Linked DNA regions of Homo sapiens: region 1 is linked to region 2. A link means that fine-mapping ties the variant in region 2 to the expression of a gene that starts in the linked region. Tissue or cell type: whole blood. Region 2 holds a variant in brackets; the other region holds the start of a gene. All regions are shown on one strand. Distances are from middle to middle.

Evidence for each region. PIP is the estimated chance that this variant, and not a neighbour inherited with it, causes the effect. A credible set is the group of variants that fine-mapping cannot tell apart.
Region 1: it holds the start of ZMPSTE24, and the variant in region 2 is the best candidate, but not a certain one, in a credible set for the expression of ZMPSTE24 in whole blood (TOPMed, PIP 0.53).

The regions. Positions count from the first base shown.
Region 1 is chr1:40,253,936-40,261,981 of GRCh38, forward strand. ZMPSTE24 (zinc metallopeptidase STE24) reads left to right here and starts at 4,301. Exons shown (of 10, transcript NM_005857.5): 1 at 4,301-4,459; 2 at 6,904-7,050. The coding sequence starts at 4,337. RefSeq lists enhancers at 3,532-3,661, 3,892-4,161, 4,242-4,521, 4,612-4,711.
Region 2 is chr1:40,279,309-40,287,354 of GRCh38, forward strand. ZMPSTE24 (zinc metallopeptidase STE24) reads left to right here. Exons shown (of 10, transcript NM_005857.5): 7 at 2,035-2,219; 8 at 6,617-6,721. Among named protein-coding and RNA genes, the nearest start is that of ZMPSTE24, 25 kb to the left of the region's middle. The variant A/C (reference allele first, on the strand shown) is at 2,939.

The DNA of each region.
Region 1 (8,046 bases), 25 kb before region 2:
GCTAATTTTTTGTATTTTTAGTAGAGACAGGGTTTCACCGTGTTAGCCAGGATGGTCTCGATCTCCTGACCTCATGATCCACCCGCCTCGGCCTCCCAAAGTGCTGGAATTACAGCCGTGAGCCACCGCGCCCGGCCAAAAAAGAAGAGTTTTGAAGAGTAGACTGATGTCAGGTAATGAAGGACCTCGAAGGTCATACCATATATACCATATATAGGTTGGGCTTTATACTATCATAAATGGACCATTACAGGGTTTTTGTTTTTGTTCTTTTTTAACAGGGAGTAACACAGAATTAGTAGCCTATATGAGAGACAGAACGTATGAGCTAGAAAGTAGAATGAGCTAGATGCAAAAGAAATAACAGCTGCTCTTGTAAGGGTACCCAGGCTGGAGTGCAGTGGTGTGATCTCCGCTCACTGCAACCTCCGCCTTCCGGGTTCAAGCGATTCTCCTGCCTCAGCCTCCAGATTATACGCGTCCACCACCATGCCTGGTTTTTTGTCTTTTGTTTTTTTTTTTGTATTTTTAGTAGAGATGGGGTTTCGCCATGTTGGCCAGGCTGGTTTCAAACTCCTGGCCTCAAGTGATCCACCCACCTCGGCCTCCCAAAATGCTAGGATTACGGGCGTAAGCCACTGCGCCCAGCCAAGGGGGATCATTCTTTTCTTGAGGCCAGAGCACTTATGGCCAGAGTTTCAATTAAGGGACCTTGAATGCTTGGTAAGCAGAGAATCAAGGCAAGATAGGGAAAAAGCTTGAGAGCAACTCTATGATTTAGGTTAGACAGGGTAGATGGACTACCCTACAGCAATGTCTATCACTCTAGGGATAATAATCTTTATCTTTCAAATTCAGTCATTTTATTTATTTTTATAGAGATGAAGTCTCACTGTGTTGCCTAGGCTGGTCTCGAACTCCTGCACTCAAGCAATTATCCCACCTTGGCCTCCCAAAGAACTGAGATTACAGGTGTGAGCCAGCACACCCTGCCAGTCTTTCTCCTTTAGCAAAATCCTGCCAACAGCCTGTTTTGAGGTTCCCATTTTTAGACTCCACACAGGCCAGCCCTTCTATTAGTACTGTCTTTCTGAAAAGAGAAACAAGTGATTATTCACTTTCCATAATTCACTAGTTCTCCACTGCCACCACATTAGTCTGCACTACCATCTCTCACCTGGATTCTTTTTTCTTTTTTTCTGATATCCTTGGCAACTGCTAAATCACCTGGATTCTTGAAATGGCCTCCTAACTGCACTCCCTCCTTCCATTCCCCATTAAATTTATTCTCCACGTTGTAATGAGAAGGATTGTCTGCTCAAAACTCTGCAATGCTCTGCTCAAAATCCTGCAATGGCTTATTCTTTCATTCTAAGTAAAAGTCTTTTAACTAAAAGACTGCATGATGGCATGGATCTGCACTCCCCCTCTTCCTTACTCTTTCCACAGCCTCTTGCCATTCCTCAGATATGATAAGCATTGGCCAATCTCAGGGCCTTTGCACTTGCTCTTCACTCTGACTGGCAATTTCCTCAGATATCCACACAGCTTGTTCTCTTACTTTTTTTGGGGGACTCAAATGCCAGTTAATCTGAGAAGGCTTCCTTGACCAACTTATGTAAAGCAGCATCCCTCACACCAACATGCTGTATTGCCTTTTTGCTGCTTTTTCTTCATAGCACTTATCACCACTTCCACTTTTACTATTAAATATTTGCTTATTATTTATCAAACACTGCATCCACCCCAGCTAAGAATGTAAGCTCCAGGAGAGGGGCTTTGGTTCACTGCTATATCCCTGGCACCTGGAAATGCGTCTGGCATTTCGCAGACATTCAGTATTTATTGAATGAATGAATTCCAGTCAGTCTTGGCTTTTTGACACCTCGGCCTCCTACTCTCCTATCTCTTCAGACACATGGTGACAGATCAATGCTATGATGCCCCTCTCCCAAGCAGTAGCTAACCTTTATTGGGCACTCAGGGCCATCTACATTGCTAGGAGCTTTACATGAATTTTCTCATTTGATCCTAACAGTATGAGAAAGTAAGTACATACTATGTTATTCTCATTTTACTGATGAGGATCTGATGCACAGATTAAAGAACGTGCTAATACATGGTGCGGCCGTGGCTGGCAATCAAGCAGCTTGACTCTAAACCTGTGCCCTTAGCCACAAAGCTTGGGTGGTAGAAGCTCCTGTGAGGCTTTGGACTCACAGACAGCTGAAGTCAAGAGTGAAGAGGGCATAGCAATGATGGCCTGAGGGAGAGAAAATTTTGAAAAAGTGTTTACCCCTTATATATTTAAGTTGGTATCTAACTGGTTCCATCATAAATTCAAATAGTTGCAATGGATGTAAATTCTTGCAAATTGTAAATACTGACATTTTAAGATAAAACTGTTAAATCACTCTTTATAATGTATCCAAGAGAATCTACATAACAACTGAATAACCACCATTATGCATTAAAACATACACTAATGAGCTCTTCAACATTGTTCTTTTATTATCTCTAACATATTTAGATTGTACTCTAACAAAAAATGTTATTCAAATATAGTACTTTGATGTTTGAACAACCTTTTCTTGATCACTTCTTCGCAATAAAAATATGACATATGTAGTAAACCTTAAAAAATTTCGTGTAACTTTATGGCTCTACGCTGGAATTCTTCTGAAGTGAGTAATCATCACAATCATCTTTAGTATATAATGGATCAAAATGACACGATTGCAAATATTGATAACACACAGTTATAAAAGGTGAAATTCTATTGGGAACACATCTCTTAGTGAGATAGATGGGGCTGACCCACCAATTAATTCATTTATCTGGATGAATAGTTCCTACTGGTAGATTAACAGGGTTCATTTTCAATTCTGTTGTTTTCACAGATACAAGTGCTGAGAAATGGTTTTACATAAATAGGTGAGAATGCTAGTAGTTTTGTTGTAAGCATGTCAATCAATCGTTTGGTTTCTTTCCGAGTTGCATGCCAAAAACCAAATAGTGTTCCTTCATCAGCTGACAATTCATGGGCCACCATTAATTTTGTTGAAAGCAAAGAACTGGAAACCATCTGACTTGAAAAGAATTTGTTATCCTGTTATTAGAGTCATTCACTTTCTCTAGTGACTTTTAATTATACTAATTACTCTCAGAGGCATTTAGGCAGGGTTGAGAAATTCAAGATATTAATTTCAACACATCTTTAGCATCACAATATCACAGTAATTTAAATATATTTTAGTTGTAGCTATTTAGCTCACTTTATTGTAAATAATAATTATGCTAATTAGCAACGATAGTATGTTTAACCAATTAATCATCAGATTAACTTTCGGTCAGAATAATGGACTTCAATTTTTAAGTCAAAGCAATGTACAGGCGTCCCAGTCACCATATTTCACTTCTGAATTCCAAGAGAGAAATGGCGTTGCGCCTTACTGACGCAAATATGTACCTAGATAAAGTAAGACGCTTTCATTTCAGGTATGTCTAACCCACGCTATCCTTGCTTTGTTCCAGGGCACTCTCGCAGGGAAAACGCCGCCTCTGACTACACTTGGGGTGGTTAAGACGAGATCTTCAAATGAAAATTCTCAACGCTACCGTCCACTCTCTCATACGCTTGAATTCCGAACACCCCAATACTGGCCAAAAGACTCCATTTCTCATGCTTGGTCTTGCTTTTGAGGTAGCTCTAACTCAGAGGCACGATTTTTAGAGCCTGGGAAGTCGGCTGCTGTTCAGTCCTTCCTAGCCTCCTCAGGCGGGAGCCGCGGCCCACTCAGTCAGTTGCGGCCCACTCAGTCAGTTCCGGCCCCAGCCCCGACTACCTGTCGCCTTGTTGGGGGAAGGAAGGCAGATACCGCAGCCCAGTCAGGGTAAGCCGCTGACCCAGAGGATGGAACTGCGGCTCTGGAGATTAGAAAGAGGAGGACTTCGCCGCGTTCACTAGCCCAGGAGGAAAGCCAGAACCCTAGGCCGGAACCCAGCGTCAAGACGTGGGGGAAGAATGTTGATGCAACACAGCTCAGCCGGGCCCGGAACTCGGCGTTTGGGTCCCCGCCCTCTTTGGGCCGGAAGTGAGGAAGGTGGGGCTGGGGCTTTTCCTGTAGAAACTAGGAGGGACTAGGGAGAGTCTGCAAGGGGAAGAGTGTGTCTGTGACACTGCCAGCAGCGCGCAGAGGGAGGGATGGGGGCGGGTATCGGCGTAGGGGCCCTCGGAAAGAACGGATATTGCTGTGACACCGCGGGGACGCTCTGAAGGGACGAGTGTCGGTGTGGCACCGGTGCACGCTGAAGGAGCCGGCGGAACCGGGTGGCCATGGGGATGTGGGCATCGCTGGACGCTTTGTGGGAGATGCCGGCCGAGAAGCGTATCTTCGGGGCCGTGCTGCTCTTTTCCTGGACAGTGTATCTTTGGGAGACCTTCCTAGCACAGCGGCAGGTGAGCCTAGACAGGGTCCAACCTGACCCCCATACCCGGCCAGCCCTGGAGTAGCCTTGGCTTCGACCCTGAGACTCTTGATTGCTTCGGTCCCCGCGCCAGTCTCGTCTTTGTGGTCCCTGCTGAGTCTCGTAACTTGGCCCGATGGCGGACTGTGGCTTTGAGGAGGGTCTTGGTGCGTCAAGGAAGTTTTCTGTAACGTTATCATGGGACCCAATCCCTTTAGGGCCTGGAGGAAGGCTTGGGCTCTTGTGCCCTCCCTGCAGCTTCCTTGGGATCCTTGGGCCCAGACTTGGCCTCCTTTATCTTTGGAATAAGCCTTTAAAAGGATTTAGACACCCAACTTCCTCATGACATTTATGTAATCATGCCTAACCATAGGATTTTGCAGTCCTTCCAAGAACTTGCACTCTTGTTTCTCCTTAAAGTGCATATATTGTTTCTGCTTGAAAAAACAAACAAACAAACAAAAAACTTATCGGGCCCGGCGTGGTGTCTCATGCCTGTAATCCCAGCACTTTGGGAGGCCGAGGCGGGCGGATCACCTGGGGTCAGGAGTTCGAGACCAGCCTGACCAACGTGGCGAAAACCCGTCTCTACTAAAAATAGAAAAATTAGCCGGGTGTGGTGGCGCGCACCTGTAGTCCCAGCTACTTGGGAGGCTGAGGCAGGAGAATCATTTGAACCCAGTAGGCGGAGGTTGCAGTGAGCTGAGATTGTGCCACTGCACTCCAGCCTGGGCGACAAGAGTGAAACTCAATCTCAAAATAAATAAATAAATGAAATTAAATGAAATATATTTCTCGTTTTTCATAAAATCAACATTATTTTAGTTTAAATATTAAAATGGTAAAATAAAAAGTGAAAGTTAACAATTTACCTGAGATAACCATGGTTTAGAGATCTGAACTTTTATTTATTTATTTTTAATCTTTATTTATTTATTTAATTTTAGAGTCTAGCTCTGTCACCAGGCTGGAGTACAGTGGCGTTATCTCGGCTCACTGCAAGAAACTAGGAGGGACGAGGGAGAGTCTGCAAGGGGAAGAGTGTGTCTGTGACACTGCCAGCAGCGCGCAGAGGGAGGGATGTTCAAATGATTCTCCTGCCTCAGCATCCCGAGTAGCTAGGATTACAGGCACGTGCCACCACGCCCAGCTAATTTTAGTATTTTTAGTAGAGACGGGGTTTCACCATCTTGGCCAGGATAGAATATTTATTGTATTTAGAGACAGGGGCTCACTCTGCCACCCAGACTGGAGCACAGTAGCATCATCATAGCTCAAGGCAGCCTCGAACTCGTGGGCTCAAACGACCCCTCCACCTCCACCTCAGCCTTCTGAGTTGCTAGGACCACAGGTGCGGATCACTGTGCCTGGCTAATTGTTTGATTTTTTTGTAGAGATGTTGCCCGGGGTGGTCTGGAGTTCCTGGACTCAAGTCATCTTGCCGCCTCCACCTCCCAAAGGGCTGGGATTACAGGCATGAGCCACCGTGCTCGATCTCCCCTCAGCTTTTATTGGCACACAACAATATATAGGGAAAGCATGTTGTAGTGGCCCATTATTTTGTTTGGTATCCATTCTCTGTATTACATTTCCTGGACTGAAATTACCCTTACCTTTTATAATTTAGTATAATGAGATAGTTGATCTTTCTCCTTTTTTTTTTTTTTTTTTTTTTTTAAGGAGATAGATTCTCTGTCACCCAGGGTGTAGTGCTGTGGCACAATATGGGCTTACTGCAACCTCTGCCTCCCAGGCTCAAGTGATCCTCCCACCTCAGCCCCCCAAATAGCTGGGACCACAGGTGCATACCACCACACTCTGCTAATTTTTGTATTTTTTGTAGAGACGGGATTTCACCACATTGCTCAGGCCAGTCTTGAACTCCTGGGCTCAAGGAATCCTTCTGCCCCTGTCTTCCAAACTGCTGGGATTACAGGCGTGACCCACCGTGCCCGGCTGAAAATTGGTCTTTTCTCACAGACCTGATATGTTTCCATCTGGTGATCCTCAAGTTTCTGGCATTTAGGACCAAATTTAATGAGCAGCCTCAGTATCTGTTCATACTCACAGTTAGCATGTGTGCTTCTCCTTTGCATGAATTTGTTTTCCGTATTATAGGAGGTATGTAATACCCAGAATGAGTAGTACATGTAACAAAGTTGTGATGTTAACAGCTTTGGTTTACATATACAAACTGAAGTGTGATGACAACCCTGATTATAGTTTTACCAGTCAGGTCACCTCAGGTTCTCTTGTTCTGCTTTTATTTTCCTGCATCAGTCGTTTCATGTACTTGATCAAGTGCAATATTTGTGTAGGTATAAAGCAAATTCAACAGATATAAGTGGCAAGCTATAAACCATTCGATGTTTGATCATAAATGACTATTGTAATAAACAACTATTTCACTAAAGTGTTTTCTTTAAAATATTTCAGAGAAGGATATATAAAACAACAACTCATGTACCACCGGAGTTAGGACAGATCATGGATTCTGAAACATTTGAGAAATCTCGACTCTATCAACTGGATAAAAGCACTTTCAGCTTCTGGTCAGGACTCTATTCAGAGACTGAAGGCACTGTGAGTAATTTACTTCTTGGAGAGACAGTCTGTCTGGTTGTTTTCATTTTCATATTTTTGTAACACAAAAGAGGGTACCACACTTACAAGTCCCAGAATGCTTTCTTAACCTTTGTTATTGATAGTAACGGCTGTGGAGCAAAAAAGACAGAAACATAACTGCTTAGTCAGTTGAAAACTATAGAATATGGGAACTATTACCCTGAAGCCAGGTAGGAAAAAGATCCTCTTCCATTAGGATCCAGCTGAGATGTCATGTCTTCTAAGCAACCATTTGAAACTCCCTGCCTGACGAATGTGGATAGGGTAGCATTCTATCATTATTCCTGTCAGAGTACTTATCTCATTATGTTGAATTTGCCTGGATTTTTTTTTTTTTCTTCTGGCACAGTCTTGCTCTGTCACCCAGGCTGAAGTACAGTGGCGTGATCTTGGCTCACTGCAACCTCTGCTTCCTAGGCGCAAATGATCCTCCCACCTCAGCCTCCCGAGTAGTTGGGACTACAGTTGCATGCCACCATACCGTCTCAGAGTGCTGGGATTATAGGCATGAGCCACACTGTACCTGGCCTGATTTGACTGTTTAATTGGCAGACTGGTAGTTCCTTAAAGAAATAGTTAAGTCTTGTTCATCATTTTATACCTAGTGCCTGGCATGTAATCAGCATATAGTTCCTATTTATTGAATGAAATAATGTGGGGTTTTTTTGTTGCTTTTTTTGTTTTGTTTTGTTTTTGTTTTTGAGCAGTGTCTTGCTCTGTCGCCCAGGCTGGAGTGCAGTCGCACGATCTTGGCTCACTGCAATCTCCACCTCCCGGGTTCAAGCGATTCTCCTACCTTAGGCTCCTGAGTAGCTGGGACTACAGGCGCGTGCCACCACACCTGGCTAATTTTTTGTATTTTTAGTAGAGACGGGGTTTCACCATGTTAGCCAGGATGGTCTCGATCTCTTGACCTCGTGATCTGCCTGCCTTGGCCTCCCAAAGTACTGGGAT
Region 2 (8,046 bases):
GGCTTATGCTTTTCTGTTAATATTTGTTAGGTTGGTGCAAAAGTAATTGCAGTTTCAGACCATGAATTTTGAATCCTTATAACTAGGCTCAAACACATCTTTATTAATCAAAAGAAGAACCATTACAATCAACACATTTTTGCCAACAAGAAATACGTTTGCTTATTTCTGTAGGGTAAAACTCTGTGCTTCGGGATTTGGCAAACTCTTGGAAAGCATTTTCTGCATCCAGCTAGTTGTGAAAACGTTTTCTCTTTAAAAAGTTGTTGAGATGCTTGAATAAGTGGTAGTCAGTTGGCAAGAGGTCAGGTGAATGTGGCAGATCAGGCAAAACTTCATAGCCCAATTTGTTCAACTTTTGAAGGATTGATTTTGCGATGTTCGGTTGGGTGTTGTCTTGGAGAAGAATTGGGCCCTTTCTGTTGCCCAGTGCTGGTTGCAGGCGTTGCAATTTTCTGTGCATCTCATCGATTTGCTGTGCATACTTCTCAGATGTAATGGTTTTGCCAGGATTCAGAAAGCTATAGTGGATCAGACTGGCAGCAGACCACCAAACAGTGACCATGACCTTTTTTTGGTGCAAGTTTGGCTTTGGGAAGTGCTTTGGAGCTTCTTCTGTGTCCACCCACTGAGCTGGTCATCGCCCGTTGTTCTATAAAATCCATGTTTCGTCTCACGTCACAGTCTGATAGAGAAATGGTTTGTTGTGTAAAATAAGAGAAGACGACACTTCAAAACAATGATTTTTTTTAATTTTTATTTTCGCTTAGCTCATGAAGCACCCACTTATCAGGCTTTTTCACCTTTCCAGTTTGCTTCAAATGCCAAACGACCGTAGAATGGTCGACATTGAGTTCTTCGGCAACTTCTTGTGTAGTTGTAAGGGGATCAGCTCCGATGATTGCTCTCCATTGGTCATTGTCAACTTCCGATGGCCTGCCACTACGCTCCTCATCTTCAAGGCTCTCATCTCCTTTGCAAACTTCTTGAACCACCACTGCGCTGTACGTTCGTTAGCAGTTCCTGGGCCAAATGCGTTGTTGATGTTGCGAGTTGTCTCTGCTGCTTTACGACCCATTTTGAACTCAAAGAAGAAAATTGCTTGAATTTGCTTTTTTTTTTTTCTTTCTTTGTGAGACAGAGTCTCCGTCTGTTGCCTAGGCTGGAGTGCAGTGGCGACATCTCTGCTCACTGCAACCTCCGTCTCCTGGGTTCAAGCAGTTCTCATGCCTCAGCCCCACGTGTAGCTGGGATGACAGGTGTGCGCCACCATGCCCGGCTAATTTTTTGTATTTTTGGTAGAGACAGGGTTTCACCATGTTGGCCAGGCTGGTCACGAACTCCTGACTTCAAGTGATCCGCCTGCCTCAGCCTCCCAAAGTGCTGGGATTACAGGCATGAGCCACTGCACCCAGTTGAATTTGCTTTTTGTCTAATATAATTTCCCTTATCTAAAATAAATATAAAATAAACAGCAAGTAATGTCATTAGCAAAAAACATAAAGTGAGAAATGTGCATTAAAATGATGTATAACATAACCATATTTATTTAAGAATGTATTCCAATATCAAACAGCAAATTTCAACAATGCAAAAACCGCAATTACTTTTGCACCAACCTAATACATGCACATTTTTTCTTGACGATAATGGAACCTGATATACGTGAAGTTTTGTATCCTTCACAATATATTGGTGAGCTTTTTCTTGTTAAAATTCTTTGGAAGTATAATTTTTTTCTGGCAGCTTAAAATTCCATTTCATAGTTTTACTATAATTGAATCATTTGTAACTGTTGGATGTTTAGGCTTTACTTATTTACTTACTGCTATAAAGCTGTGATGAGCACATTTATTGGCAAAAAACAGACACTCTCCACTGCTGGTGGTGAATTATGTTGATATGATTTTTCTTCACATATTAAATGATTTGAAAATGTTAATGTCCTTTCCAGTAATTCAATTTCTAGGAGTCTCTCCAAAGGACCCCAAACTTTTTAATTATATTCCATGCTTTGAACTGTCTTTTCCTTAGGATCTAAACGCTCTTCCCACAGCAATGCTTATTTTTATGGCTTCTTCAAGAACAAGCGAATAGTTTTGTTTGACACTCTACTAGAAGAGTACTCTGTACTAAACAAAGACATCCAGGAGGATTCTGGCATGGAACCCCGCAATGAGGAAGAAGGGAACAGTGAAGAAATAAAAGCTAAAGTTAAAGTGAGTTATTTTTTCCTAAGAGATTCTACCTTAGTTTTTATACACAGTTCCTGTGACAACTCAAAATAACATCAATTTCTAGGCAGTGAGTGTTGAATTCAGGGAGACTATCAGATGAAAACCATGGCTCCTTTATAGTTCTGGTATTTAGGAGAGATCACCACTATTATTACATGCTAACTACCTTGCAAGCTTTTATAGAATGTGGATATTAAAATTGGAAGCTCTTATAAGAAAATTCATATGATTATAAGCTATCTTTAAAACAGGAACTTGTGTGTATATATATATATGTGTGTGTATATATATATATAATTTCTTATGTGTTTATGATCAAAGAATTCCCACAAGCAAGATAAAGAGAAGATAAACATCTAATTTTTAGCTTTATTAAGACAGTAATTGTAGGCTTTGGCAATGGAGAGACTTGGATTTGAATCCTGGTTCTGTCATTTAGTAGCTTTGTATCCTTGGATACGTTGTGTAATTTAGTCTGTTTTATTTGTTTAACACCCATTTATGAAATGTATACTCTGTGCTGAGAGACTTTACTTGGCACTAGGTACACAAAAATAAAAAGGAATACCTTCCTCTTAAGCTTACAGTCTAAAGGGGAAATAGTCATGCAATCACAGTACAATACGTGAATTGCTACTGTCAAGCTTTAGATTCTAGATATAGTAACTGGAGCACAAGAAAAGACATTTCTCAAATCTGAC[A/C]TGAGAGTCTGAGAAAGCTGCTTCTGAATCCTTTTCGTGGATAAGATTGACTGATATTGATTAGCAGAATTTAAAGTATCAAGACTAAATGGGGGAGAGGGGACAATGATAAGAAACAATACAAACTGTCAGAAATGATCATCAGTATTTGTATGTGTGATGGAATGTGCCATTGCCTTTGGTGTCATACAGAGATGATTTTAGATGCCTGTTCACTCACTGTCTGTGTAACTCTGTGCAAGTAAGTTAAGCTTTCATTTATTTATGTATTTATTTATTTTGAGATGAGGTCTTGTTATGTTTTCCAGGCTGGTCGAACTGCTGGCCTCAAGTTACCCGCCTGCCTTGGCCTCCCAAAGTGCTGGGATTATAGGCGTGTGCCACCGCACCCCGCCAAGCTTTCTAAATCTTTGATTTCTTAACTGAAAGATGAGGCCAGTAGGGTTTCTCAAGCCCCACGCTATTTTTTTGAGCCAGATAATTTTTTTGTTGTGGGAGGTATCTTGTGCATCACAGGATGTTTAGCAGCATCCCTGGTCTCTCCCCACTAGGGGCCATTTCCCCTACAACCTCTACAAATTGTAACAACAAAAATGTCTCAGAATATTGCCAGATGTCCCCTAAAGGTAGCGGTGGGGCCGAGTCTCCCCTGGTTGAGAAATACTAGGCTAAAGATACCTACATTTTAGGGTTTTGAAGATTAAATGAAATAATATGTGTGAAATACCTTGTACTCTCTACCCAAATGTAGAGAGTACCAGAAAATGATTAGCATCTGAGCATCTGTTTTGACACTAAAAACAGGTTCTAGTAAAGTACCTAGCCTGTTATAAATACGTAGATGAAATAAAATTCTGTGAAGGGATTAGAAGACATCTTAAAGTCATCTTATAAATAGGAAAACTGAAGTCCAGAAAGAATAACCCAGTGATAACACTAGAGAATCATGCAAGTTTAGAAAGTTAATCTGCTTATGGTCAGGCACTGTGGCCCATACCTGTAATCCCAGCACTTTGGAAGGCCAAGACAGGCAGATAACTTGAGGCCAGGAGTTCGAGACCAGCCTGGCCAACATGACGAAACCCCTGTCTCTACAAAAAAATACAAAAATTAGTTGGGCATGATAGCGCACGCCTGTAATCCCAGTACTCAGGAGGCTGAGGCACAAGAGTTGCTTGAACCTGGGAGGTGGAGGTTACAGTGAACTGAGATCCTGCCTCTGCACTCCAGCCTGGGTGACAAAGTGAGACCCTGTCTTAAAAAAAAAAAAAAATTGCTGATCCTTTTGTTACTTTTTTTGTTTTTGTTTTTGTTTGCTTTTCTGGAAGTTTGTTAGATCTTTCTCTGTTTCAGTGTTCTAAAATTTCACATACCTTGATGGGGATCTGTTTTCATCTACCATGTTATATGCATCACACTGTTTTCATCCACTGTAATATATGCATTAGGCCCTTTTATTCTGGAAATCGAGGTCCTATGGTTGTAAGAAATTTTCTGAAATTATTTTGTTGATTTTTCTCCTCTCCATTTTTTAAATTCTGTGTTTTCAGGGCTCCTCTTACTCGAGTGCTGGATTTGTTATACTGAACTCTCCTATCTTTTTAACCCTCTTTTCCATTTTAAATATATCTCTTTCTGCTTTCTAGAATTCCCTCATCATCTTCCAATCCTTTATTGTATTGAACTTTCTTTCTTTTTTTTTTTTTTTTTGAGATGTAGTCTTGCCCTCTCGCCCAGGCTGGAGTGCAGTGGCGCGATCTCAGCTCATTGCAACCTCCTCCCGGGTTCAAGCAATTCTCCTGCCTCAGCCTCCTGAGTAGCTGGGATTACAGGTGTGCACCAGCATGCCCAGCTAATTTTTTTTTTTTTTTTTTTTTTGGTATCTTTAGTAGAGACGGGGTTTCACCATGTTGGCCAGGCTGGTCTCAAACTCCTGACCTCGTGATCCACCTGCCTCAGCCTCCCAGAGTGCTGGCATTACAGGCTTGAGTCACCATGCCTGGCCTTCAGCTTGGATTTCTAATAATTTTTTTATCTGAATTTTCCAATTTACAGCATTTCGTTACTTTTTCTTAGGTGCAATGTCTTAATTTTCTAAACTTTCTCTTTATATAATTTATTTCATGTTGCTTTTTTTGTGGATCAGATCTTCTGTGTTAACAGCTTACCTCATATATCTGGTAAATCCTTGGTTATTTGCTCCTTAGTAAGAGAATGGGACTAGGCCCCACACAGCGGCTCATGCCTGTAATCCCAGCACTTTGGGAGGCCAAGGCAGGTGGATCACCTGCAGTCAGGAGTTCGAGACCAGCCTGACTCACATGGTGAAACCCTGTCTCTACTAAAAATACAAAAATTAGCCGGGTGTGGTGGCATGCGCCTGTAATCCCAGCTACTCAGGAGGCTGAAGCACAAGAATCACTTGAACCCAGGAGGTGGAGGTTGCCGTGAGCCGAGATCGTGCCGTTGCACTCCAGCTTGGGCAACAAGAGTGAAACTCCATCTAAAATAAATAATAATAACTACTGTTAACATTTGTATATACTTTCAGTCTACTTTTTATATTTGTATATTTTTATATACACATTCACATTGTTTCATAATTAGAATCATACTATATATTTTTAGTTTGTGTCTTACTTTCTTCACCTAATCATTTTCCAATGTCAAAACATCATCCCTTTTTTTTTTTTTTTTGAGATGGAGTCTCACTTTTTCACCTAGGTTGGAGTACAGTGGCGTGATCTTGGCTCACTACAGACTACGCCTCCCAGTTTCAAGCAGTTCTCATGCCTCAGCCTCCTGAGTAGCTGGGATTACAGGCATGCACCACCATGCCTGGCTAATTTATTATTATTATTATTATTATTATTATTTTGAGATGGAGTCTTGCTCTGTCTCCTAGGCTGGAGTGCAATGGCGTGATCTCAGCTCACTGGTGATCTCAGCTCACTGCAGCCTCTGATTCTCCTGCCTCAGCCTCCAGAGCAGCTGCAATTACAGGCGCATACCACGATACCCTGCTAATTTTTTGTATTTTGGTAGAGACAGGGTTTCACCATGTTGGTCAGTCTGGTCTCGGTCTCCTGACCTCGTGATCCACCCACCTTGACCTCTCAAAGTGCTGGGATTGCAGGCATGAGCCACCATGCCCAGCAATATTTTGTATTTTTAGTAGAGATGGGATTTTGCTATGTTGGCCAGGCTAGTCTGGAACTCCTGGCTTCAAGTTATCTGTCTGCCTCGGTTTCCCAAAGTGTTGAGATTACAGGCGTGAGCCACTGCAATTGGCCCTAATCTTTGAAAACAAAATTTCTAATGATTTTGTAATATAATGTGACTGTCATATAACTTTATCATGATTTATTTAACTATTGTCCCATTATAAAGATTTCTATTTCTTCCAGTTTTTTTTTTCCTAATCTAAGTTAGTCTAGACTGTGAGCTTTATGTAGTCTGGGAATGTCCATCTTGTTCGTCATTCTATCTATCTTCAGTGCTTAACCCACTGTCTCATGTGGAGCAGTGGTTCAGGGAATGTTTTGTTAAGACAATCAACAGTTTTGAACAAAACTGATTATTTCTTTAAGTTAAAATCTATGAAGGGCTATTACTGGGTTAAAAGATAAAACTTTTTAAAGGTTCTCAATAATTTATTTTTGATTTTTTTTTATTCAGAATAAGAAACAAGGATGTAAAAATGAGGAGGTACTCGCTGTACTAGGCCATGAACTGGGGCACTGGAAGTTGGGACATACAGTCAAAAATATCATTATTAGCCAGGTAAGTGTGGAGTGACAATTCTTTTTTTATGGCATGATAGTCAAATTAGAACTATGGCAGGCATGAGAGGTCATATAAGAGAGGCCAAGGCAGACACCACAGCCAGGCTACCTGGTTTCCTATCACAGCTCCCTGACTTACTACCTGTGTGACCTCAGGCAAGTTCCTTAACCTCTGCCTCTGTCCCCTCATTGAATGATAATACCTCATAGGACTGGTTAAGAATTAAGTGAGTTAATACATGTAAAGAGTTTAGACTAGCACCTGGAACATGGTGAGTACTATATAAATTATTGTTATCACCACCATCATCACCTCCAGAGTAAGAACTTGGAAAATCAAAAGGAACAAGCCTAGATAAGTTGGACATTAAAATGCTTTTTAAAATTAAATTAAAAAAATTTTTTTTGAGACAGAGTCTCGCTCTGTCACCCAGACTGGAGTGCAGTGATGTGATCTCGGCTCACTGCAACCTCTGCCTCTCAGGTTCAAGCGATTCTCCTATCTCAGCCTCCTGAGTAGCTTGGACTACAGGCACCCACCACCATCCCTGGCTAATTTTTGTATTTTTAGTAGACACAGGGTATCACCATGTTGGCCAGGCTGGTCTCGAACTCCTGACCTCAGGTAATGCACCCACCTCGGCCTCCCAAAGTGCTGGGATTATAGGCGTGAACCACTGTGCCCACCCTAAAATGCTTTTTTTTTTTTTTTTGAGATGGAGTTTCACTCTTGTTGCCCAAGCTGGAGTGCAATGGCGTGATCTCGGCTCACTGCAGCCTCTGCCTCCCGGGTTCAAGCAATTCCCCTGCCTCAGCCTCCTGAGTAGCTGGGATTACAGGCACACGCCACCACACTTGACTAATTTTTTTTTGTATTTTTAGTAGAGACGGGGTTTCTCAATGTTGGCCAGGCTGGTCTCGAACTCCTGACCTCAGTTGATCCGCCTGCCTCAGCCTCCCAAATTGCTGGGATTACAGGCATGAGCCACCACTCCCGGCCTCTAGAATGCTTTTTAAAAAACATTTTTTTCTTTTTCTTTTCTTTTTTTTTTTGAAATGGGGTCTCTCTCTGTCGTCCAGGCTAGAATGCAGTGGCGTGATCTCAACTCACTGCAACCTGCACCTCCCAGGCTCAAGCCATCCTCCAGCCTCTACCTCCCTAGTAGCTGAGACCACAGGTGCATGCCACCGCGCCCGGCTAATTTTTTTGTATTTTTGGTAGAGACCGGTTTTCACTATGTTGTCCAGGCTGGTCTTGAACTCCTAAGCTCAAGCGATCCACTCGCCTTGGCCTCCCAAAGTGCTGGGATTACAGGCATAAGC